Linked DNA regions of Homo sapiens. The protein of the gene in region 1 interacts with the protein of each later gene in a pairwise test. Each region holds a gene or a part of one and is shown on either strand. Other genes may lie near its edges.

Region 1 (3,500 bases):
TAGTCTTAAGTACACTAATATTTTTCATTATGACTTCTGCTTTTATGTAGATCTTTTCAAATCATTTGTTGTATGTCTTTTCCTTACTTACAGCTAGGATATTTGAGAAGTTTTTTTTCTGTCTGTTGGCTACCTTTAAAAATATAACTTTTACCTAATCCCCTTATTCTTTGTTTTTCCTCTTCTTTTGTTTTTTTAGGGGGCATGTACTGACCCCCTTTGAACAATGATGAAATTAGAATGTTTCTACTTCTTCCTGTCTTAACTTAAATTTTTTTTGATATATTTAAGTATACATACATATACAAGTATACTTATTTCTTGGTGCGTAATCTTTACATGATGTCTTTGGCTCAGGTAATGAAAGTGAACATACACTCCCTTTCCCTTGGGTCATTAAAATAATCTTTTTATAGGTGGTATTTTGCGATGATTTCTGTGTCTGGAGTCTTCTCGGTCACGTTTTCTGTTATATTTGCCTATGTAGCTGATGTCACTCAGGAGCACGAGCGAAGTACAGCTTATGGATGGGTAAGATAATAGACTATATATATTTTTTAACCAGAATAGTAATTAACATTGTATTAGAAATTTACTGGAAAGTGAGTTTATTAGTCCTTTCTTGCACTGCTGTAAAGAAATATCTGAGACTGGGTAATTTATAAAGAAAAGAGGTTTAATTGTCTCACAGTTCTGCAGGCTATAAAGGAGGCATAGAGGCTTCTGCTTCTGGGGAGGCCTCAGGGAGCTTTTACTCATGATGATGGAAGGCAGAGCCAGAGCAGGCATCTTCACATGACTGGAGCAGGAGGAAGAGAGAGTGAAGGGGGAGGTGCTACACACTTTTAAACGGCCAGATCTCACAAGAACTCACTTACTATTAACAACCAAGGAAGGTGGTGCTAAGCCATTCATGAGAAACTACCCCCATGATCCAATCACCTCCCACCAGGCCCCACCTTCAACATTGGGGATTACAATTGAACATTTGAATTTTTTAAAAAATTAGTTTGATTTGTTTCTTGTTATCTGATCCCCGGAGGAGCGTTAAGCAGTCAAGTTGCACAAGCTCTTTGTGCACCTAATTTGGAGAGGTGCTGAACCTCAGCAATGTTAATCCATTGTTAACTCTATTAGTGGTTGTGTGTTTTGGACATACATTTGGAACATGGTATGTAGAAAAGGACTACATTCACTCATTCATCAAATCCATAGTTGCTGAATAACAAAAGTTATAGGAGACCTTTTTTTCTGATAATTAAAACCTGACAGTGTTTCTGATTTTCTCAGGCATGATAATGGCATTATGATTATGTAGAAGAAAGACTTGTTAGAAGATAGCTGAAGCGTTTTACATCAGTGTCAGGACTCTGCCAGTTACTTTCAGATGTTTCAGGGGAAAAGATAGCATAGCATGTGGATGTGCATGTGTGGGCATGTGTGTTCCATGCCTGAACCTGTGAGACATGGAAGTATGCTTGGTACCCTTCTCCCGTCTTCCTCTGTATTTGAAAATATTCAGAATAAGAAAGTGGAAGAAGAAAGATGATCTGGCTAGGTTGTGGGGAATAGGTTGGAGGGAGATTGAATGCCAGAAACTTAGGTTATTTATCTCCTTTTCCTGGGTCTTTTAAATCTACTTCCTGGAGTAGAGTAAGTTCTCATTCATTGCTGACTGAATGAATAACTTCCTGAATCAATGATGGGCATATAAATGGGTTACTACTATTCCACAAAACACAACAATTTTTAACTTGTTGACTTTAGACATCAGTAGTTTGAAAACTACTCTTTCAACCCCACTTCCCTCTGACTCTTCTACCTTCCCTCTCTCTCTCTCCTTGCTTCTTCCCTCCACTCCTGAATGTCCCTCTCATGTCATGCCCTAAAAAGGGGCATCTTCAGAGTCGTGATGGAGGAGGACAAAGATAGAAGCTGATAGGAAAGCTTCGAAGAAGACAAGATTTGGAGCTCACTCAGGAACACCAAAAACAAAAATAGGCCGGGTGCGGTGGCTCACGCCTGTAATCTCAGCACTTTGAGAGGCTGAGGTGGGGGCGGATCATGAGGTCAAGAAATCGAGACCATCCTGGCCAACATGGTGAAACCCCGTCTCTACTAAAATACAAAAATTAGCCGAGCGTGGTGGTGTGCGCTTGTAATCTCAGCTACCTGGGAGGCTGAGGCAGGAGAATTGCTTGAACCCAGGAGGCAGAGGTTGCAGTGAGCCAAGATCGCGCCACTACACTCCAGGCTGGCGACGGTCAGACCCGCCTCAAAAAAAAAAATGTCCCCCAAAACTCCAAAAATTAACAACCTCCCCCCGCCCTGCCAAAAAAAAGAAAAGAAAAAACAAAAACAAGAAGGTAGGTTGTTCAAGTTGTGCCCATAAGGCTTGGCCAACAGAGTAGTGAGGGACAGCTTTCTTCTACAGCATGGGAAATACCTGTTGAGATACTCATTTTTCTGCAATATTTGATTTTTGTTTCTCGCTTTCAGCTGGGAAACCCTTCACACAGCTGTTGTGCTGAGCAGTAGTGCTTTCAGGAAAGATTTAAGAGAGTTCTAACCAGAAGCGCCTGTGACTTAATTACCCTCTCCAGCTCAGCTCCTCATTGTATAATGGCAGTTAGGGTTAATATCTACTCACAGGGGCATTGAGAGCAATCAGTGAGCGCACACATCCAGACTGAGACGGCACTTAGCTGAAGTGTGCTCCCAGCCAGCAGAAGCAACTCAGCATGCAAGGCTGCCTGGATTGCAGTCTACCTATCTTCTAGATATAGGAGAATTTATTGCCAATTAATTACAGAACGTGTCAGTCAAGTTCTAAGGAGCATTTTGAGACCCATTAAAGAACAGTATAAAAATGTGTACACCTTCCTTACTCAGACTTCTTCAGTAAACCAAGAAAGTGGTAATTCTTTCAGGGCTACGGCAATGATTAGTCATGTTAATAAGTGAGTTAACACTTACTAAGAGTTTGTTGTGGGGAAGTCATTCTTTAGATTTATTCATCAGAGTTGTATTGAATGTTAAGTGAAAGAGGAGTTTAGATAAAAACACAGACTAAGCAAGTAGGCTACTTTAGGCTTTAAGATAGACACATTTTGCATAGAGTTTCATGAGGCCATAGACCCTTTAACACCTGAAGATGCTGCAGCAGTGCCCCCTTAACACCTGAGAAGAGTGTAGGAATGTTCCCATAACTGTTTGCTTGTCGTTGCAGTTTATAATGCAGTTATTTGGTTGCCCTGATATTCTTGAATAAAGTGGGAAAACCTGAGGGCAAGAGCTTTGTCTTCTTCATCTGGTACATAGTAGATTCTCAGTAAATATTGAACAAAGGATTCCTATTCCCCACATTGGAATTTTCCACATTCTTTTTTCCCCTCCAAAAATACTTGAGTTTTAGCTTTTATAGTACTTTTAGTATAATACTAATTTCAGATATACTGTGTTTTTTAATTCAGTTGGGAGATGATGGATGAAAAAGAATT
Region 2 (3,500 bases), on another chromosome or scaffold:
CATAACAACCTTAATATTTCTTTGACCTAAAATTTTGTTTCTTTTCCTTCTTCTAATTATAAAAGAAATGAAAATTATTTAAAACATTTTCATGGGCCTTTCGAAGCATTGTGGGCCCAGGGCACTGTGCCTGTTGTGCCTAGTGCATAAGTCAGCCCTATTCGAAGTAGGGCAGAGTGGAACTGTGCCTTGTGGGCTTTGCCCACCGTGCCAGGTAAAGCTCATCTCTTGCCACCAAATGATCACACCAGCTACCGCCTAGGTTGTCCTCACCCTGTATTAGACACTTAGCATTTTTCTTTATTTTATTTTAAAAATAATTTTTTGTAGAAATAAGGTCTTACTGTGTTGCCCAGTCTGGTCTCAAACTCCTGGCCTCAGGTGATCCTCCCATCTCAGCCTCCCAAAGCAGCATTTTTCATTGCACTTATTCCTCACCACAACCCAATGAAACAAGTTTTAGTCTCATTTTACGGAAGGAAAAACTGAAGTTCAGGGGAGTTAAGGAATTTTCTTTTCTTTTTTTTTTTTTGAGATGGAATTTCCCACTTGTCACCCAGGCTGGAGTGTAGTGGTGCAATCTCGGCTAACTGCAACCTCTGCCTCCCGGGTTCAAGCAATTTTCCTGCCTCAGCCTCCCGAGTAGCTGGGACTATAGGCGCCCACCACTATGCCCAGCTAATTTTTGTATTTTTAGTAGAGACAGGGTTTCACCATGTTGGCCAGACTGGTCTCGAACTTCTGATCTCAAGTGATTCACTCACCCCGACCTCCCAAAGTGCCGGGATTACAGGCATGAGTCACCGTTAAATTTTCAAAGATTAAAAAAATTTCCCAAGGTCACACAGCTAGTAATGGCAGAGGCAGGATTTTGCGCCAAGTCTGATTTACTGCAAGCCTGTGTTCTTTCTGTCATGGTGTACTGCTCCCAAGGTCTCACTCCACCCAACTGGCTGGTGCACATGAAAGAGAAGGCAGAAGAAAGGGGGCCGAGTCCCAGGGTGGCTTCCCATGGAAAGAACTCGGGGAGCCGCCCTCTGCTGGGCAGGTCTAGAGCAAATAAGTAGGCTGGCAGACTTAGGTGGCAAAAGATCTGATGCCTCAGTGATAAGAGATTTAGCTCAAGCTGGGAACAAGGACCACAAAGAAGCCAGCCAGTATCTGGGTTAACAAAAAAAAGAGTAAGTGAACAGAATAGATCTTGAAGGTCATTTGCTATTGGTTAGGACTTGGGTGGGGCCTTCAATCTTATGAACCTGAGCAGGGAAGGTTTGGAAAGACTGTAGTGCTATTTAATAATTATTCCTTTGTTTGGACAAAAAAATGGGGTAGAAACGGGAGAGAATGGGGGAAAAGCTATAAGCCATTTCCTCCTTTTATGCCAGCTTTCCTGAACTTAGTTTATTTTGTTGTTGTTTGTCCTTTTTTTCTTTTTTTGAGACAGGGCCTCAGTTTCACCCAGGCTGTAGAGCAGTGGCTCAATCACAGCTCACTGCAGCCTCAACCTTCCCAGACTCAGGTGATCCTCCCACCTCAGCCTCCCAAGTAGCTGGGATCACAGGTGCGTGCCACCATGCCCAGTTAATTTTTGTATTTTTTGTAGAGACAGGGTTTTGCCATGTTGCCCAGGTTGGTCTTGAACTCCTGGACTCAAGTGATCCTCTGGCCTCAGCCTCCCAAATTGCTGGGATTATAGGTGTAAGCCACCTTGCCAAGCATGTTCTTTTATTTGAAAGGTAATACATGCCCCTCAGAGAACAGCTTTCTAGACCTTTTCTATGTACAAACATATATATGCATATTTATAGGGTTTTTTAAAGTTACTTAAAAAAAAATACACAGAGAGACAGGGGTCTCGCTATGTTGCCCAGGCTGGACTCAAACTTCTGGCCTCAAGCAATCCTCCCACCTCAGCCTCCAAAAGTGCTGGGATTATGGGTGTAAGCCACTGCACTCTGCCAATTTACTTTTTTTTTTTTTTTTAAACAAAGATGCAGTCCTACTACATATACCACCTGGCAGTTTGCTTTTTTCATCTAACCATGTATCCTGTCCCAGTAATATTGTAGATCTCATATTCGTTTTAGCAACTGTTTCCACAATGGATGGCCTGTAATTTATTTCATCATTCCTCTCCAGATAGACATTCTAAGTATGTCTGGATTTTTTATTTTAAAATTTGATTTTAATGAGAATTCTAATAGAACACTTTCCATTTATAAAAATTCAAAAATTAAGGCTGAGAGGGGTTCTGATGCTCAGCTAGTTCAACTAACCATTCTGTCCTAGAATTCTCTCTCCAAGATGCTACGTAGCTTTTGTCCAGTTTTGCTCTTCCTTCTGTTGGGGAGACATCTGTCTTTCCCAGTTTCTGCTGTTAGTTCTCTTGTACAGGTCATGCCTTGGCATATTAGAAGACAGAATTCAAGCTCTAGGCTCCCTTTTTTTTCTCTGGGCTTTCTCTTGCAAGCTTTCCTTATCTGACATGGTTTGCCTGCTCACTTCAAAATTGTGACACCCAGGCCGGGTGTGGTGGCTCATGCCTGTAATCCCAGCACTTTGGGAGGCCGAGGTGGGCAAATCACAAGGTCAAGAGTTCGAGACCAGCCTGGCCAACATGGTGAAACCCTGTGTTTACTAAAAATACAAAAAATTAGCTGGGCATAGTGGCGGGTGCCTGTAATCCCAGCTACTTGGGAGGCTGAGGCAGGAGAATCGCTTGAACCTGGGAGGCGGAGGTTGCAGTGAGCCAAGATTGAGCCACTGCACTCCAGCCCAGGTGACAGAGTGAGACTCCGTCTCAGAAAAAAAAAAAAAAAAAAATTAAGGCTGGGCACGGTGGCTCACACCTGTAATTCTAGCACTTTGGGAGGCCAAGGTAGGTGTATCACGAGATCAGGAGTTCGAGACCAGCCTGACCAACATGGTGAAACCCCCTCTCTACTAAAAATACTGTAATCCCAGCACTTTGGGAGGCTGAGGCGGGTGGATCACGAAGTCAGGAGATCGAGACCATCCTGGCTAACATGGTGAAACCCCGTCTCTACTAAAAATACAAAAAAATCAGCTGGGCGTGGTGGTGGGCGCCTGTAGTCCCAGCTACTCGGGAGGCTGAGGCAGGAGAATCGCTTGAACCCAGGAGGCAGAGGTTGCAGTGAGCCGAGATCACGCCGCTGCACTCCAGCCTGGGCCAGAGAATGAGACTCCGTCTCAAAAAAAAAAAAAAAAAAAAAAAATTGGCCGGGCGCGGTGGCTCACGCCTGTAATCCCAGCATTTTGGGAGGCCAAGACGGGTGGATCACGAGGTCAGGAGATTGAGACCATCCTGGCTAACACGGTGAAACCCTGTCTCTACTAAAAAAATACAAAAAATTAGCCGGGCGTGGTGGCGGGCACCTGTAGTCCCAACTACTCAGGAGGCTGAGGCAGGAGAATGGCGTGAACCTGGGAGGCGGAGCTTGCAGTGAGCCGAGATTCTGCCACTGCACTCCAGCCTGGGT
Region 3 (3,500 bases), on another chromosome or scaffold:
GGCCTTTTCCAGGGCTGCAGGCCAGTTCCCCTTTGGGTTGGGCAGTATTGATTGATACTCTTCCTGGGAAGGTGGCAATGCTTACGGGCTTTGGATCAGTGCTAGGCTCATATGCTTAACTGCCACTGACAAGGTTTGGAGCCCACGGGCAAGGTCTTTAGTTTCTCGAGCTAGTTTTTTTTTTTTTTTTTCGTGAGACAGAGTCCCCCTCTGTTGCCCAGGCTGGAGTGCAGTGGTGCCATCTAGGCTCACTGCAACCTCTGCCTCCTGGGTTCAAGCGATTCTCCTGCCTCAGCCTCCTGAGTAGCTGGGATTACAGGCGCCCACCACCACGCCCGGCTAATTTTTGTATTTTTAGTAGAGATGGGGTTTCACCATATTGGCCAGGCTGGTCTTGAACTCCTGACCTTAAGTGATTCTCCCACCTTGGCCTCCCAGAGTGTTGGGATTACAGGCGTGAGCCACAGCGGCTGGCCTTGAACTAGCTTTTTAATCCATAAAATGACACCTGGGTGTGCGAGACCCGGCTGACATTGGCTGATGGTGTGCATCTTCCCAACTCTGTGTTCAGGGATATCAGGCTGACATCTCTAAGTCACAGGTAGGGTATTTACATCACGGAAAGTGGCAAATGCTACAGCTGAGGCCCCTTCCTCTCTCCTGCCCAATGTTCATATTGACTGGGATAATTGTCCCTGCCTCCCAGGGTTATCGTTTCAAGGGTTTCTTGGTCTGGTGAGCATCGTATGAGCAGATACATACCTGGAAAGCCTCAGCTTGGTGCAGCACCTTGCAGCAGCTAACATTTGACAAGTAGTACGGCCCTACTCACCTCTGGACCTCTGGACACGGGGCAGATGTGGGGAGGAGGGGCCGAGGAGGGGGCGGGGCCGAGGAGGAGGAGGTGGGGCTTGAGGACGGGGAGGGGTGTCGAGGAGGGGGAGGCGGGTCCCAAGGAGTAGGAGGCAGAGTTTAGCAGGAAAAGGCATGTCCTGAGGAGGAGGAGGGGGCAGGGCTGAGGTGGAGGAGGTGGTTCCTGAGGATGAGGAGGTAGGGCTGAGAAAGAAGAGGCGGGGCCGGGGGGGAAGGGGAGGCCGAGGGGGAGGAGGTGGGGCTCAGGAGGAGGAGGCGGGGCAAGAAGGAAGCGGCGGGCCTGGATGGGGGAGGCGGGACCAGGGAGGGGGAGGCGGGACCAGGGAGGGGGAGGCGGGACCGAGTAACAAGAAGGTGGGACGGGATGAGTGGTGGGCTTTGGTGTGTGCCAGGTGGAGTAGCTGTTTCAGCCGCACCCAGGTGGATTTAGAGGCTCCACCAGCTGGGCCCAGCAAAGCCTTCTGGACTAACTGGTTCCTGAGAACAGAGGAGGGTTGACAGCCTTGAGTGAGGGCGGTGCTTGGAAAGGCCTTGCGACTCTGATAAGGTGGTTGGGTTTGGTCGGGAATCCTGCACTTTCATTGACAAGCCTGGCTGCGTGAGAAAGGCCAGAGACCTTGAGCTAGTTGGTCAAGTTCAGGCTGGGTCTTAACACCTTCTTGCTGATACTGATAGTGGCAGCTGAGAATGTTTTAATACCTGGGACATTTCCTGCGGCAGCCAGAATATAGTAATCTTCCTAGTAAATTACGGTGAATATAGTGCTTAATTATCAGTGTTTTTTTTTTTTTTTTTTTGAGACGAAGTCTCGCTCTTGTCCCCTAGGCTGGGGTGCAATGGCGTGATCTCGGCTCGCTGCACCTCCGCCTCCCGGGTTCAGGCGATTCTCCTGCCTTAGTCTCCCGAGTAGCTGGGATTACAGGTGCCCACCACCACACTTGGCTAGTTTTTGTATTTTTAGTAGAGATGGGGTTTCACCATGTTGGCCAGGCTGGTCTGAAACTCTTGACCTCAGGTGATCCGCCCAACTTGGCCTCCCAAAGTGTTGGGATTACAGGCGTGAGCCACTGCGCCGGCAGTGTGAGTGCTTCTTATCTAGTAACATATCTAAATCGTGTACTAAACATAAGACGTAGATGCTGTTCTTATCTCTACTTGACTGATGGAGAAACTGAGGCACAGAAAGTGAAGCGACTTGTCCACAGCTAGTGGCTAGCAGAGCTGGGATTCTTCTAGAACCAGAGTGGGCTTTGCTGTGGGTCGTGCACTGGGGAAAGAATCAAGTGTGTGGTGGTGGTGAAGGACTTGGAGGCCACCCACTCTGTCCTTGGGACAGTGACTTAACCTAAGCTTCAGTTTTGTCACCCTGTGAGGCCAGGATAACGACACCTGGGGGCCTGTGGGGGAGTGTGAAGTGCTCAGCATGCTTCGCGGCCCACAGGCAGGGTAAAAATCCTTAAGCGGAGAGGGACCCACGTTAGGCAGGTAAGGACAGATCAGCATCCCCAGGGCTGCCTGAGATGCTTTTGGCACCTGACCTCTTTGGAAGGCCTCAAAACTCTTTTTTTTCTTTTTTTTTTTTTTTGAGATAGAGTCTTCCTCTGTCACCAGGCTGGAGTGCAGTGGCGTAATCTTGGCTCACTGCAACCTCTGCCTCCTGGGTTCAAGTGATTGTCCTGCCTCAGCCTCCCGAGTAGCTGGGATTACAGGCACGTGCCACCATGCCTGGCTAATTTTTGTATTTTTAGTAGAGACGGGGTTTCAGCATCTTGGCCAGGCTGGTCTTGAACTCCTGACCTCGTGATCCACCCGCCTCAGCCTCCCAAAGTGCTGGGATTATAGGCATGAGCCACCACGCCTGGCTGAGAAAAGCTTCAAAACTTAATGAAGAAGGTCCACCAGGCGCCAGGAGACAGACTGATGTCAAATCATATGCCCAGAAGGTGGAGGAAGAAGCCCAGATGCCAGTGCCTCAGTTTTGATATAATGTCACACACCATGCAAGTCACATTTTTTTTTTTTTTTGAGACAGAGTCTCGCTCCGTCACCCAGGCTGGAGTTCAGTGGCTCCATCTCGGCTCACTGCAATCTCCGCCTCCCGGGTTCATGCGATTCTCCTGCCTCAGCCTCCTGAGTAGCTGGGACTACAGGCGCCCACCACCACGCCCGGCTAATTTTTTTTTTTTTTTTTTTTTTTTTTTGTATTTTTAGTAGAGACGAAGTTTTACCGTGTTAGCCAGGATGGTCTCGATCTCCTGACTTCGTGATCCACCTGCCTCGGCCTCCCAAAGTACTGGGATTACAGGCGTGAGCCACCACACCTGGCTGCAAGTCACATTTTGAGATGATCAGCTCTTTCCTTCTTCATGGGAAGACCCTTGGGGAAGTCACACCACACTCAGAGCCCACTTTTTAACCTGTTGTGACAAAGAATCATCCCAGGAAGTGGAGGCTAGAAGACAGTCTGGCCACCAGGTGCCTGTCACAGCTGCCTCACCTAGGAGCACACTGCTTCTGTTCCTGCTCCCTCCTAGCTGACTGTTCCCCACCGAGCCACAGGCAGAAGGCCTTTTTGCCTGTAAGTGGGAGGATCTTAGTGTGCCATGGCTCAGAACCTTCCCTCAGAG
Region 4 (3,500 bases), on another chromosome or scaffold:
AAAAGTCTTATGAGGTTCTCCATGCATTGTTGTATTTGTAATTCTTTCTCTTACTGAGCTGAAATGTAATAAGGGGAGAACAGTAGACAATGAGGGTAGTGAGGTAATGGGAGACAAGATGTTAAGTGTAAGGCTTTAACTTTCTCTCTTAGTGAGGAGGGAAGCTACTGGAAGGTTATGAGCAGAAGTGTACCTTGATCTTACATTTTAGAGCAGGGGTCAGCAAAGTTTTTCTGTAAAGAGCCCATATGGTAAATATTGTAGGCTTTATGGATCACACAATCTCTGTTGCAACTTGATTTACAAAGAGACATCTGGCAGGATTTGGCTCCCAGGCTGCGGTTTGTCGACCCCTGTTTTAGGACTGTATGAGCTGCTATATTGAGAATAGATTCTAGGGGGTGAAAGTGGAGGTAAGAAGTCCAGATGAGGAGCTGTAACAGTAACCTACATCAGAGATCATGGTATAGACCCAGCAGATAGAAAGTGAATACACAGAGCAAAGAGGTTCTAGGACTGAGCCTCAGAACAACCTAACATTCAGAAGTCAGAAAGAGGAGGACTCAGCAAAATTGTCTGATAAGGAATGGCCAGTGATATATGAGGAAAACCAAGAGAGAATGGTATTCCAGAGCAAAAAGATGTCAAGAAGGAGAGAGTACAATAGCAGAACAACAAATAACCTGATTTAAAAAATGGGGAAAAGACGTGAACAGACATTTCCCCAAAGAAGGCATAGAAATGGCCACCAGAGGTATATGAAAAGATGCTTAGCATCATCAATTATCAGGGAAATGCAAATTAAAAGCACAATGAGATATCAACTGGCACTTGTTAGAATGGCTGTTATCAAAAAGACAAGAGATAATTGTTGATGAGGGTGTGGAGAAAAAGGAACCCTAGTACACTGTTGGCGGGAATGTAGATTGTTACAACCATTATGGAAAACAGTATGGAGGTTCCTAAAGAAATTAAAATTAGAACTACCATGCGACCCAGCAATTCCTCTTCTGAGTATATACCCCAAGGAAATGAAATCACCACCTCATAAAGATATCTGCCCTCTCATGTTCAGTGCAGCATTAATTTATAGTAGCCAAGATATGGAAACATCCTAAGTGTCCATCAATGGATGAATGGATAGAGAAAATGTGTCTACAATGGGATACTATTTAGCCTTAAAAAAGGAGATTGTGCTGTTTGCCATAGCATAGATTTTGGAGGACATTATGCTAAGTGAAGTAAGCCAGACATAGAAAGACAAAATACTGCATGATCTCATATGTGTGGGGAAAAAGTCATATATACAGTTGTATAATATAATAAATATAAAGAAATAAAACTGGTTACCAGGGATAGGATGGGAGGAAATGGGAAGATGTGGGTCAAAGGATACAAAGTAGCAAATATGTAAGAGGAGCAAGTCGAGAGATCCAATGTACAGCATGAGGACTGCAGCTAATGCAATTGTATTGCCTTAGGGATTTCTGTGAATTAAGTGGATTTTAGCTGCTCTTATCACAAAAAAGTAACTATGTGAGATGATAGATATATTAATCTGATTCATTATAGTAACCACTTTACTTGTCTATATGTATCCCATAACATCATGTTGTAAACCTCAAATATACACAATAAAATACCTTTTTTAAAAAAAGGAGAGAGTAATCAACTGTGTCAAAAGCTGCTGTAGGTCAGATGAGATTAAAGCTGAGAAGTGAACACTAGCATTTGGTAAGGTCAAGATCAGTGGTAACCTTGATAGGAATGGTTTCATTGAAGTCATGGGACAAAAGCCTGAATGGTGTAGGTGTGAGAGAATATGGACACAGGACAAAAGAGACGGCCTCAAAGTAGTTTTGCTGTAAAGGAGAGCACAGAAAAGGGAAGGGGGCTGGAGAATTGGAGTCTAGGGAGGATTTTTTCAACAATGGTTAATGATTACAGCTGATAGGTGTTCAGCAATGAAACAACAAAATCTCTGCCTTCATGAAGCTTACATTTTAGTATCGGGTGGGGGCAGGAAGATAGACAGTAATAAAGAAACACATAATTATATTAAACTGGCTACAAGATGTTGCCACTCAGATATCATATGGACATTTTGCATTCAACATATTCAAAATGACATTATCTCCTCCCCTCCCTTCCCCCACCTTTTCCTCTATTCCTCTTCCTTGTTTTTATATTGTAAAAAATGCCACATTCAGGACAGAATCTTGTGCCTTATCCCTTGCAACCATCCTGTCCTCAAACTCAGGAGTGTTTTTTTTTTTCTTCACAAACAGTTCCTCAGGTCTGCTCCCTCCTTGCCATCTCTACCTCGGCCCATTGGCATTCACTTCTCTTCTGGATCGCTACCTCACCGTCTTAACTAGAGTCTCTGCCTTCGTCCTCCCCCTTTAATCTCTTCTCCACAATGTAGCCAGAGTCATCTTTTAAAAATATAACCTGAGAGTTTTAAGGGACTTACTCAAGACCACAAGATTCATAGAGCCAAGATTTGATTTCCTTATGTCATGCTCCTCTTGGGGCTGGCTTTATGTAGGGGGTAGGAAGGAGCTAGGTCATCTTAAGCTAAGTAAGATATGAACATTGCCAGAAATGCATGTTTGTATGTAACTGACAGCTCATCAATTTGTCTGATGTTGGTTTGTTTTTGTAGGTGCACAGGTTTCATATTCCAGAAGGTTGGAAAGTTGGCTGCAACAGCTGTGGGAGGTGGATTTTTTCTCCTTCAGGTCTGTATGTGAAATGTTCTCAGATGTTTGGAAATTCCACCTGCCCATTAAGGAATGTGGTGTGGGGAGTTGTAATACAGTCCTGGCTATGTCACACTAGACTAGCCTTAGCACTTGTTTTCATGTACTATTTTAAATGCTAGTGACCGTTTGAGTCAAATTTTATTCATTATACTAGTAAATGTTATTTGCCAGTCCCATTTTATTTCCTCATGTGGCGACAGAAGTGCAAATTCCTTATCATAGCTCCCTTAAAAGAGTTTTTAAGACCAGCTGAATTATTAAGCGGATGTGATTTCAAAAATACAAGTGTGCTGTGATGATTTAGTGTCATATGCTAATATTATAGCTAGCTTTCACAGAGGGGATGTTGAGCATGTGATGAGAAATGGGAGCTAAGTGACAGTACAGTCAGATGTCGTCTGCTGTCTCCTTGACCCATAGTTTCAGAACCAGTGGTTGCCAGTTCTCTGAGACTGCTTAGGAGAGACTAACAAGCAAGACTTGAAAAAGGGAGCAGTTTCTCCAAAAACAAAAGAAAACTGACATTTGATTGTATTAGGCATACATTTCTTAGCTCTGTGGCATTGGTATTCAAATTTGGCTCCACATTGGAATCACCTAGGAGTTTTTAAAAGAGCCAACGTGTGCCACTCCTGACCCACAGTCTGATTTCATTGGAAAACTTAAAACTCCTGAGGTGATTCTGCTGTGCTGTGGGAGCCATAACTTGCTGAATCATGCCAGAGTCTCTGAATT
Region 5 (3,500 bases), on another chromosome or scaffold:
AAAGAATATTAATAATTGTGAAGTAGGATAGTAACAACTTTTTTTTGGCCAGGCATGCTGATTCCCGCCTGTAATCTCAGCACTTTGGAAGGCTGAGGTAGGAGGATTGCCCGAGACCAGCCTGGGCAAGACAGGGGGACCCCAGCTCTACAAAAAATTTAAAAATTAGCCAGGCATGGTGGTGCATGCCTGTGGTCTCAGCTATTGGGGAGGCCAAGGTGGGAGGACTGCATGAGCTTGGGAGGTTGAGGCTTCAGTGAGTGAGCTGTGTTCGTACCACTGCCCTCCGGCCTGGAGGGCTTTTTTTTTTTTTTTTAGACGTAGTTTCGCTCTTGTTGCCCAGGCTGGAGTGCAACAGCACGATCTCAGCTCACTGCAGCCTCCACTTCCTGGGTTTAAGCGATTCTCCTGCCTCAGCCTCCCTAGTAGCTGGGATTATAGGCATGTGCCATCACACCAGGCTAATTTTGTATTTTTAGTAGAGATGGGGTTTCACTATGCTGGTCAGGCTGGTTTCAAACTCCTGACCTCAGGTGATCCACCTGCCTCGGCCTCCCAAAGTGCTGGGATTACAGGCCTAAGCCACCGTGCCTGGTTTTGTTTGTTTGTTTGTTTGTTTTATTGAGATAGTCTCTCTCTGAAGCCCAGGCTGGAGTGCAATGGCACGACCTCAGCTCACTGCAACCTCCACCTCCTGGGTGCAAGCGATTCTCCTGCCTCAGCCTCCCGAGTAGCTGGGATTACAGGCGTCCGCCACCATGCCTGGCTAATTTTTGTATTTTTAGTAGAGACAGGGTTTCACCATGTTGGCCAGGCTAGTCTCGAACTCTTGACCTCAGGTGATCCACTCGCCTCGGTCTCCCAAAGTGCTAGGATTACAGGCATGAGCCACCACGCCTGGCCTCAAATGCAATTTTATGCAAAAGTCTTGATACATACCAAACCATTGTGGTTATATACATGTAGGGGTTCCTTCTCAGTTAATCTCTCTCCCCATAACATTCCAACCTGTGCCTCTACACATTTTACTTTTATTATTACCTCTTCCTATTCATATCTACCTGGGGAGTTTCTACTGTTATTTCTTTCACATTCAGTACCTGACTCCTTTTCTCTTCCATTTGCTCTAAAGTTAGATGCCCAGCCTGTCCTCCCAGCATCTGGTGCATACCTCTCTTTTGAGCTACATCAGTGGTTGCAAACCCAGTTTTGAGAAGCCTTTTCCCTAACTCAGCCATCCCACTGCAGTATCCTGACATGTTTTAGCACCAAAAGCTTGAAATGAGAGGGGTTGGGATCCAGAGTGCATATCAAAGGATTGAATTTTGAGAGCCAATAGAAGACAGAGGGTGCAGATACAGATAGGATTGTAGATTGTGATAGGCATCTGAGCAGCTCCTGCTAGCAGTCATTCATCAGGGAGATAAAAAGCTGGGTGCCATTAACTGAAAGAGAGGAGAAATTAGACTAGGTGGGAAATAATCTTGGAGTGCTAGGTGGAAAGAGTAGGCTGGAAGGCCTACTAGAGAAATGTGGGGACATTAGGTGGCATTGTATCCCAGTAGAGGTTGTTGGTAATGACTTGTAATGGCATTACTGCACCATCCTCTCTGACTTTTTTTCCTCCTTTCAGTGATGCTCAGCTGTTTGGGTATAGACAGCAAATAAGATGGTTGGGTTGGGTCAGGCACAGTTGGATTTTATTAAGGGAGTGTACAAGAGGGACTCCTAAGAGCCAAGGGTGTGGATAAAGAGGAAAATGAATATAAGTATAGGAGGGGTGAAGAAAGTTGTGGGGTCAGTGGACTGGAGGTTTTAGTGAAGCTGAAGGATCATTTCAAGAAGGAATTTCATCGGGGCTTTGGAGAGTCAGTGAATTCAGGGGACAGTCCATTCATTTAATGCAAGATAGTGGATGGAAAGTCCCAAGAGTTGGAGGATATAGAGGTGTTTCCTGTTCACCGAGCATGAGATCCAGAGAATACATTTTTTGTTAATAAAGACATTTTAACAGGTAGAGCCAAATTGCCTGTGTTGGAATCCCATCTCTGTCATTTACTAGCTGTGTGACTATATAATCTCTCCGTGTCTCGGCTTCTTCATCTGGAAAATGGGGATAAAAATAATACCTATCTAGTAATGTTGTATTAAGGGTTAAATGAGTTATTAATGTCTGTAAAAGCACTTCAATAAATACCACCATATAGGAAGTATATATAAGTACTTATTAAATAAAAATAGTGTCTTCACTATATATTTAATATATAACTCTTTTAAAGTGTTAATGCCTAGCAACTGTTTCCTTCCTCTCCCCCTCTATTTATTCCCATAATCTTATAATTAAACCTTTGCCATATGCTCATTTGCACTAGTTCTCTACACATTTTTTCATTAGGCTCGTAAGACTGTGCTAATCATTCAGAAAAGTATATTTTAAATATCTCTATTTTATGAATTTTATTTTAGCTGTTAAACGTTTAATGAAAGAAGCGGCAGAATTGAAAGATCCAACAGATCATTACCATGCGCAGCCTTTAGAGGTTAGTTTCTATCTCCATGTTCTTCATATGGATTTTAATATTTAAAACAAATTTTTTAAAATTGCTTTTCATTGCTTTGAGTCATTACAGATGTGTGTGATGTAGTTTGACGTTTTATTCACCATATTTCATGAATATTTCATTAGCCATTCCAAATCACTTTAGAAGAAACGGATTTTGTGGTCTTTATAAAATGGGTCTCAGATGCTAAGTTGAGGTTAGATCTTTTTTTTTTTTTTTTTTTTTTTGAGGCGGAGTCTCACTGTGTTGCCCAGGCTGGAGTGCAGTGATGTGATCTCGGCTCACTGCAACCTCTACCTCCCAGGTTCAAGCAATTCTCCTGCCTCAGCCTCCTGAATAGCTGGGATTACAGGCCCCCACCACCACGCCCGGCTAATTTTTGTATTTTTAGTAGAGACAGGGTTTCACCATGTTGGTCAGGCTGGTCTCAAACTCCTGACCTCGTGATCCACCCGCCTTGGCCTCCCAAAGTGCTGGGATTACAGGCGTGAGCCACTGCACCCGGCCGAGGTTAGATCTTGAGTCTGAGGGAGGGGAGGTGGAAAGAACCCCAGATACTTTACAGTTTGGAAGCCTTTTGATGGGTCTCCGTAGCTACTCAAGGCTTTTTGTATAAACATCTCGGCCTCTCTCAGTCTTCTCATTTGTAAAAGGAGGGTATTTAAATATACCCAGGCAGGTTTTCATGGTAACAGTGGGAATAAAAATATCATAACTTAAGTGCAAGTATTTTGTAAACTGAAAAGTACATGGTAACTGTAAGATGACATTAAATACATTAGTATTACCATTTTATAAATAAGCTCTTAGGCATCTATAAGGGATAATTTTTAAAGATTTGTTAAAATAACCCAAACATAGTAATTTTTTGATTATATAATTATCATAATTTGCTATTCTTTCAAGGATTAATTTCCAATTTAAACCTGTAAGTTACTT
Region 6 (3,500 bases), on another chromosome or scaffold:
TGTGTCCCGGGCTCTCAGGCAAGTAGCTCAGGCCCCAGGCTCTTGGTTCCACCCTGTGCACCTGAGGGACATTCTTTGTGGAGTCCCCAGAGAAGGGCTGGGGGTCACCTGGGTGGGTAGGGAGGTGCGGGCTCCAGAGAGGAGAGACTGGCTGGTGCTGGGGTCCGAGTGGAGGGAGGGTGCTTCTGAGCCCGGTCAGCCAAGCCCCCAGCCCTAACCCTAGGTGCTGCCCGCAGGCCGGCAGTGCGAGTGGCGCTCCATTGACGGCAGCATCGTGCTGCCCCTGGCCCGGGGCTCCCCAAAGGCACTGGCCCTGGAGTACGCACTGTGCCTCACAGGCGACGGCTTGGCCCACCTGCAGGCCACCGACCCCCAGCAGCTGCTCCGCCTCATCCCCCATGTGCAGGTGTTCGCCCGTGTGGCTCCCAAGCAGAAGGTATGTGCACAGCCCTAGGGGTCAGGGGCACAGCGGTAGGCACGCAGCCCCTGCTCAGCCTGTCTCCGCCCATACAGGAGTTTGTCATCACCAGCCTGAAGGAGCTGGGCTACGTGACCCTCATGTGTGGGGATGGCACCAACGACGTGGGCGCCCTGAAGCATGCTGACGTGGGTGAGTGCTGTGGGCTAGGGTATTTCGTTTGTGGACGAGGTGTTGAGGACATGTCACTGAGCTAGAAAGACAGACCTGGCCCTTGGTGACAGCCACGGGGGCACTAATTCCTGTGAGGATGGGAGGGGGTGGCAAGGTCAGGGGCTTTGAGGGCAGGAAGGGATGCGAATATCCCAGGAACAGAGCAGGGCGGAGGCCAGAGGCCAGGAGAGAGGCAACAAGTTGGGAGAGTGACTCAGAAAACCCAGAGCTGAAGCCATGAAGATGGTTCATAGCCCCAGATCTCTGTCAAAAGCACACAGATGGCTGAGCACTGTGGCTCCTGCCTGGAATCCCAGTGCTTTGGGAGGCTGAGGCGGGAGGATCACTTGAGTCTGGGAGTTCAAGGCAGTGGTGTGATCCACTCTAACCTAAGTGACAGTGCAAGACCCTGTCTTTTTTTTTTTTGACGGAGCCTTGCTCTGTCACCCAGGCTGGAGTACAATGGCACGATCTGGGCTCACTGCAACCTCCATCTCCCGGGTTCAAGCGATTCTCCTGCCTCAGCCTCCCAAATAGCTGGGATTACAGGCACGTGCCACCATGCCTGGCTAATTTTTGTATTTTTAGTAGAGATGGGGTTTCACCATGTTGGCCAGGATGGTCTCCAATTCCTGACCTCAAGTGATCCACCCGCCTTGGCCTCCCAAAGTGCTAGGATTACAGGTGTGAACCACTGCATCCCACCGAACCCTGCCTTTTTTTTTTTTTTTTTTTTTTGAGACAGTTTCTCTCTTGTTGCCCAGGCTGGAGTGCAATAGCACGGTCTCAGCTCACTGCAACCTCTACTTCCCGGGTTCAAGCAATTCTCCTTCTTCAGCCTCCCAAGTAGCTAGGATTACAGGCGCCAGCCACCATGCCCATCTAATTTTTGTATTTTTAGTAGAGATGGGGTTTCACCATGTTGGCCAGGCTGGTCTCCAACTCCTGACTTCAGATGATGCGCCTGTGTTGGCCTCCCAAAGTGCTGGGATTACAGGTGTGAGCCACCTCACCTGGCCTTTTTTTCTTTTTTCTTTTTTTTTTTTTGCAAGAACTCAGGTGTTAAATTGAATTTTAAAGATCAATCTTACGTTGGTTTTTTTGCTTTTCCAATATTTATCTGCTTTTATCTACTAAAGCATTTATTGAGTGTTGTTTGCCTCCTAGAATCATGCTCCTTGGCTATTTCTTTTGAAATCAGTTTAGGTTGTTTTGTTTTGTTTTATTTTGAGACTGTCTCGCTCTGTCGCCCAGGCTGGAGTGCGGTGGTGTGATCTCATCTCACTGCAACCTCCGCCTCCCGGGTTCAAGCGATTCTCCTGCCTCAGCCTCCCGAGTAGCTGGAATTACAGGCACATGCCACCACCCCTGGCTAATTTTTGTATTTTTAGTAGAGACGGGGTTTCGCCGTATCAGCCAGGCTGGTCTCAAACTCCTGACCTCAGGTGATCCGCCCACCTCAGCCTTCCAAAGTGCTGAGATAACAGGTGTGAGCCACTGCGCTCGGCCAAAATCAGTTTAGTTTTGACCTATCTCGTGTTGTGTGTTTTTTCATTGCATTTGTTGTGGGGGTTTATTGTTGGTGGTTTGTTTTCTTAAAGTAGTTTGTAGAAAGCAACACGGGCACTCTCTGAGGTCTCCTTAGGGTGTCAGGTGAAATGGGGAAGTCTGGGAACTGTCCTCACGGGAGCCAGCTGGGGGACTTCAGGACCAGTGGCTCTGAAGCCAGCAATCTTCCCCTCCGTGGAGCCTGCTCCTCCGGGTCTGACACCCTCCTGCCCCCCAGGTGTGGCGCTCTTGGCCAATGCCCCTGAGCGGGTTGTCGAGCGGCGACGGCGGCCCCGGGACAGCCCAACCCTGAGCAACAGTGGCATCAGAGCCACCTCCAGGACAGCCAAGCAGCGGTCGGGGCTCCCTCCCTCCGAGGAGCAGCCAACCTCCCAGAGGGTGAGTCCCAAGAGGGGAGGTGCTGCACCCCATCCTGGCCAGGGCTGACAGCCTGCTGTCTACCCTGCAGGACCGCCTGAGCCAGGTGCTGCGAGACCTCGAGGACGAGAGTACGCCCATTGTGAAACTGGGGGATGCCAGCATCGCAGCACCCTTCACCTCCAAGCTCTCATCCATCCAGTGCAGTGAGTTGCCTGCCCCCGCTCCCCCTCCCTTCATTCCCCCCTTGGCACCCCTACCCACACCCACACCTGCCTCCCCACCACCCTGCAGTCTGCCACGTGATCAAGCAGGGCCGCTGCACGCTGGTGACCACGCTACAGATGTTCAAGATCCTGGCGCTCAATGCCCTCATCCTGGCCTACAGCCAGAGCGTCCTCTACCTGGAGGGAGTCAAGTTCAGTGACTTCCAGGCCACCCTACAGGGGCTGCTGCTGGCCGGCTGCTTCCTCTTCATCTCCCGTTCCAAGGTGGGCCCCAGAGGTGCTGGAAGGCCAGGGATGCATGGGCCTGCCAGGGCCAGGCTGATATAGGCACGGGAATTGTCATCCCCAAGTTACAGGACCCAGGGCCCCAGAGATGGGGGCTGTAGCTGGGATGGCTCAGGAAATGCTGGCAGGGCAGGTGTGGACTGAGGCTCCCAGACCCCTCCAGGTGGTACAGCTTGGCGTCCACACCTGTCCACAGGTAGGGGTCCCAGGGGTGGGCCCCACAGAGCCCCACAAGCAAGGAACAATCATCAAGAGGGTAAAAAAACAACTAAGTGGGTCATAGGCTACACAGGACAGGCTGGTGGACAGCTGGGGAGGCCTGTGCGACACCGACACTCAGGCCAAGGCGTAAAGAACCAGGGGGGCCAGCGGCCAGGAACTGGACACAAAGGCCCCAAACAGGCATGGGCTGACGCAGGGAGTCCCCGGTG
Region 7 (3,500 bases), on another chromosome or scaffold:
GTTGATATTTATCCATGGTGAAGCATGTGTCAGAGTTTATTCCTTTTTATTGCTAAGCAGTGTTCCATTGTGTATCTGTTTTACTACAGTTTGTCCATTCACCTGTTGGTGGACCCTGGGTTGTTTCTGGTTTTGGGCTCTACACCTAGAAGCTGCTATGAACATTTGTGTACAAGTTTTGGTATTGTTAAAGTATAAACTGAGGCAGAATAAAATTTTAAAGAGTTTTGTCTGAGCAAACAGCAATTCATGAATCAGACAGCAACAAATCAAAAGTGATTTGGGACTCCACCAAAGGAATGCAAGTGGAAGACTTCTATAGGATGAACAAGGAAACAAGGCAAAGAAAATATTTGATTAATTATATTTATATAGTTGCCTTGTTTAGTCCATCCTATTGGAAAGTCCCTAGTTATGTAAGTTAGTTGATGGCTTCTAATTGGCGTAGCCTAAGTTTGTTTGTTTCTTTTTTTTTTTTTTTTTTTTTTTTAAGAGACAGGGCTAGAGTGCTTTGGTGCGATCGTAGCTCACTGCAGCTTTGAACTCCTGGGCTCAAGTGATCCTCCCACCTCAGCCTCTCAAGTAACCAGGGCAACATGAACTACAGACATGCATCGCCACGCCTGGCTAATTTTTTAATTTCTTATAGAGGCAAGGTCTCGCTAGCTATATTGCCCAGGCTGATCTCAAATTCTGGCCTCAAGTGATCCTCCTGCTTCAACCTCCCAAGGTGCTTACAGGCATGAGCCACCATGCCCAGCCTGATTTTTCTTTAATATAGGCACAGACAAAAAATAACCAAAGTTTACATTTGCAAACAGCCCAAATTAAGTTTTGCTTCTATTGCTTATATTTGCAAGGTCAAGGTTGTTTTAATGGCTTAACTGGCTTTGTCCAGGGGATTTACAGACCTGGTCTCCATCTTATTTTAATAGTATGAATATGTGCTTTCATTTCTTTTAGGTAAATATCTAGGAATGGAATGGCTGGATCATATGAGTAGGCTTACTCACTTATTAAGAAACTTGGCCTGGACTACATAGCAAGACTCTCTCTCTAAAAAAAGATTTTTTTTTAATTAGCCAAGTGTATTAGTCTGGGTTCTCTAGAGGGACAGAACTAAGAGGATATATGTATATATGAAAGGGAGTTTATTAAGGAGAATTGACTCACACCATCACAAGGTGAAGTCCCATGATAGGTCATCAGCAAGTTGAGGAGCAAGGAAGCCAGTGGTGGATCAGTACGAGTCCCAAAAGTAGGGAAGCTAACAGTGCAGCCTTCAGTCTGTGCAGCCAAAGGCCCAAGAGCCCCTGGAAAACCACTGGTGTAAGTCCAAGAGTCCAAAAGCTAAAGAACTTGGAGTCTGATGTTCTAGGTCAGGAAGCATCCAGCATGGGAGAAAGATGAAGTCCATAAGACTCAGCAAGTCAGCCCTTCCATCTTCTCCTGCCTGCTTTATTCTACCCCCGCTGGCAGCTGAGTAGATGGTGCCCAACCAGATTGAGTGTGGGTCTACCCCTCCCAGTCCACTGACTCAAATGTTAATTTCCTTTGGCAACACCCTCACAGACACACCCATGAACAATACTTTGTATCCTTCAGTTCAGTCAAGTTGACACTCAATATTAGCCATCCCACCAGGTGTAGTGGCTCCCACTTGTAGCCCCAGATACTCGGGAAGCTGAGGCAGGAGGATCACTTGAGCCCAGGAGTTAGGCTACATTGAGCTATAATATGATAGAGGCACTGCGCTACAGCTCTGGTAACAGAGCAAGATGCTGTCTTTTTTTTTTTTTTAATAAGAAAATAATCTAACTTGTTAAGTTCATAACTTATTAACAAAACTATTTTATATTCCCATCAGCAGTGTATGAAAGTTCTAGTCCTTCCACGTTAACAACACTTGGTATGGTCATTCTTTTTAATGTTAGCCATTCTATTTTTAGCCCTTCTGTGTAGTGGTGTCTTATTATGGTTTGATTTGCATTTCCCTAATGACTAACAATGTTGAGCATCTTTTTTTTTTTTTTTTTTTTTTTTTTGTGGAGACGGGAGTCTCGCTCTGTCGCCCAGGCTGGAGTGCAGTGGCGGGATCTCGGCTCACTGCAAGCTCCGCCTCCCGGGTTCACGCCATTCTCCTGCCTCAGCCTCCCAAGTAGCTGGGACTACAGGCGCCCGCCACTACGCCCGGCTAATTTTTTGTATTTTTAGTAGAGACGGGGTTTCACCGTTTTAGCCGGGATGGTCTCGATCTCCTGACCTCGTGATCCGCCCGCCTCGGCCTCCCAAAGTGCTGGGATTACAGGCGTGAGCCACCGCGCCCGGCCGAGCATCTTTTTCAAGTGTTTATTTGAAGGGTTCAGGCCTTTTCCCACATTTTAATTGAGTTGTGTTTGTTATTATTTCATTTTGATCATTTTAAAATATATTCTTGGTACAAGTCCTTTATAAGACGCATGCTTTGCCCATATTTTCTCCAGGTCCATCACTTGTCTTCTCATTCTCTTAACAATGTCTTTGAAAGAGCACAGATTGCTAATTTTGATGAAATTCAATTTATCATTTATGCTATTGAATATCATATCTAAGAAATCTTTGCCTAACTCAGAGTGACAAAGATTTTATCCTATGCTTGCTTTTGGTTTTTTTCCATTTAGGTCTATGATTCACCTTGAATTACATGCTAGTGGATGTGGAGTGGTATCTAATTGTGCTTTTGATTTGCATTTCCTTTTTGGCTAATGGTGTTGAGCATCTTTTCATGTATTTATATAGGCCATTTATATATCTTCTTTAGAGAAATGTCTGTTCAGATCTTTTGCTTGTCGAGTTATCTTTTTTTTTTTTTTTTTTTGCTTTTTAAAGTAAGACAGACAAATGATTTACAAATGTTCTCTAATTGTATGGGTTATTTCTTCACTTTCTTGTTGATGTCCTTTGCAACACAAGTTTTTTTATTTTGATGAGGTCCAGTTAATATTTGTTTTGTCTTTGGTGTCATATCTAAGAAGCTGTTGCCTGATCCAAGGTCACAAATATTTACACATAGGTTTTGTTCTAAGAGTTTTCTAGTTTTGACTCTTATATTCAGATATTTGACCCATTTTGAGATAATTTTTGAATGTGGTGTGAAGTAGGAGTCTAGTTTCATTCTTTTGCCTGTAAATATCCAGTTGTCCCAGTACTATTTATTGAAAAAACTATTCTTTCTCCCATTGAACTGCCTTGCTATTCTTGTTGAAAATCAACTAACCATAAATGTGATGATTTATTTTTGGGCTTTAAGTTCCATTCCATTGACTATATGTCTATTTCTATGCCATACCACATTGTCTTAATTACCTGGGGCTCTGTAGTAATTTTTGGAATTGGGAAGTGTTTTCCTTCAATTTCATTTTTCTTGTTCAATATTATTTGGGTTATTCTGGGTTTCTTGAATTTGTATAAATTTTAAGATCAGCTTGCCAATTTCTGCAAGAAGTCCACTGGGATTCTTG

The links.
Region 2: the proteins of SLC71A2 (region 1) and SMAGP interact in binary tests that used the Homo sapiens proteins (3 or more experiments, as listed by UniProt).
Region 3: the proteins of SLC71A2 (region 1) and TECR interact in binary tests that used the Homo sapiens proteins (3 or more experiments, as listed by UniProt).
Region 4: the proteins of SLC71A2 (region 1) and FUNDC2 interact in binary tests that used the Homo sapiens proteins (3 or more experiments, as listed by UniProt).
Region 5: the proteins of SLC71A2 (region 1) and UBE2J1 interact in binary tests that used the Homo sapiens proteins (3 or more experiments, as listed by UniProt).
Region 6: the proteins of SLC71A2 (region 1) and ATP13A1 interact in binary tests that used the Homo sapiens proteins (3 or more experiments, as listed by UniProt).
Region 7: the proteins of SLC71A2 (region 1) and CSGALNACT2 interact in binary tests that used the Homo sapiens proteins (3 or more experiments, as listed by UniProt).

Annotation. Positions count from the first base shown.
Region 1 is NC_000009.12:94,440,569-94,444,068, forward strand, and holds part of SLC71A2 (hippocampus abundant transcript-like protein 1), read left to right. Parts: intron 1-416; coding exon 417-531; intron 532-3,500.
Region 2 is NC_000012.12:51,260,416-51,263,915, reverse strand, and holds part of SMAGP (small cell adhesion glycoprotein), read left to right. Parts: intron 1-3,500. UniProt on the Homo sapiens protein: May play a role in epithelial cell-cell contacts. May play a role in tumor invasiveness and metastasis formation.
Region 3 is NC_000019.10:14,536,094-14,539,593, forward strand, and holds part of TECR (very-long-chain enoyl-CoA reductase), read left to right. Parts: intron 1-3,500. UniProt on the Homo sapiens protein: Involved in both the production of very long-chain fatty acids for sphingolipid synthesis and the degradation of the sphingosine moiety in sphingolipids through the sphingosine 1-phosphate metabolic pathway.
Region 4 is NC_000023.11:155,043,844-155,047,343, forward strand, and holds part of FUNDC2 (FUN14 domain-containing protein 2), read left to right. Parts: intron 1-2,665; coding exon 2,666-2,741; intron 2,742-3,500. UniProt on the Homo sapiens protein: Binds directly and specifically 1,2-Diacyl-sn-glycero-3-phospho-(1'-myo-inositol-3',4',5'-bisphosphate) (PIP3) leading to the recruitment of PIP3 to mitochondria and may play a role in the regulation of the platelet activation via AKT/GSK3B/cGMP signaling pathways.
Region 5 is NC_000006.12:89,342,723-89,346,222, reverse strand, and holds part of UBE2J1 (ubiquitin-conjugating enzyme E2 J1), read left to right. Parts: intron 1-2,466; coding exon 2,467-2,540; intron 2,541-3,500. UniProt on the Homo sapiens protein: Catalyzes the covalent attachment of ubiquitin to other proteins. Functions in the selective degradation of misfolded membrane proteins from the endoplasmic reticulum (ERAD) and is essential for cells to recover from ER stress.
Region 6 is NC_000019.10:19,646,677-19,650,176, reverse strand, and holds part of ATP13A1 (endoplasmic reticulum transmembrane helix translocase), read left to right. Parts: intron 1-236; coding exon 237-436; intron 437-513; coding exon 514-610; intron 611-2,417; coding exon 2,418-2,578; intron 2,579-2,648; coding exon 2,649-2,763; intron 2,764-2,851; coding exon 2,852-3,048; intron 3,049-3,500. UniProt on the Homo sapiens protein: Endoplasmic reticulum translocase required to remove mitochondrial transmembrane proteins mistargeted to the endoplasmic reticulum.
Region 7 is NC_000010.11:43,144,945-43,148,444, forward strand, and holds part of CSGALNACT2 (chondroitin sulfate N-acetylgalactosaminyltransferase 2), read left to right. Parts: intron 1-3,500. UniProt on the Homo sapiens protein: Transfers 1,4-N-acetylgalactosamine (GalNAc) from UDP-GalNAc to the non-reducing end of glucuronic acid (GlcUA). Required for addition of the first GalNAc to the core tetrasaccharide linker and for elongation of chondroitin chains.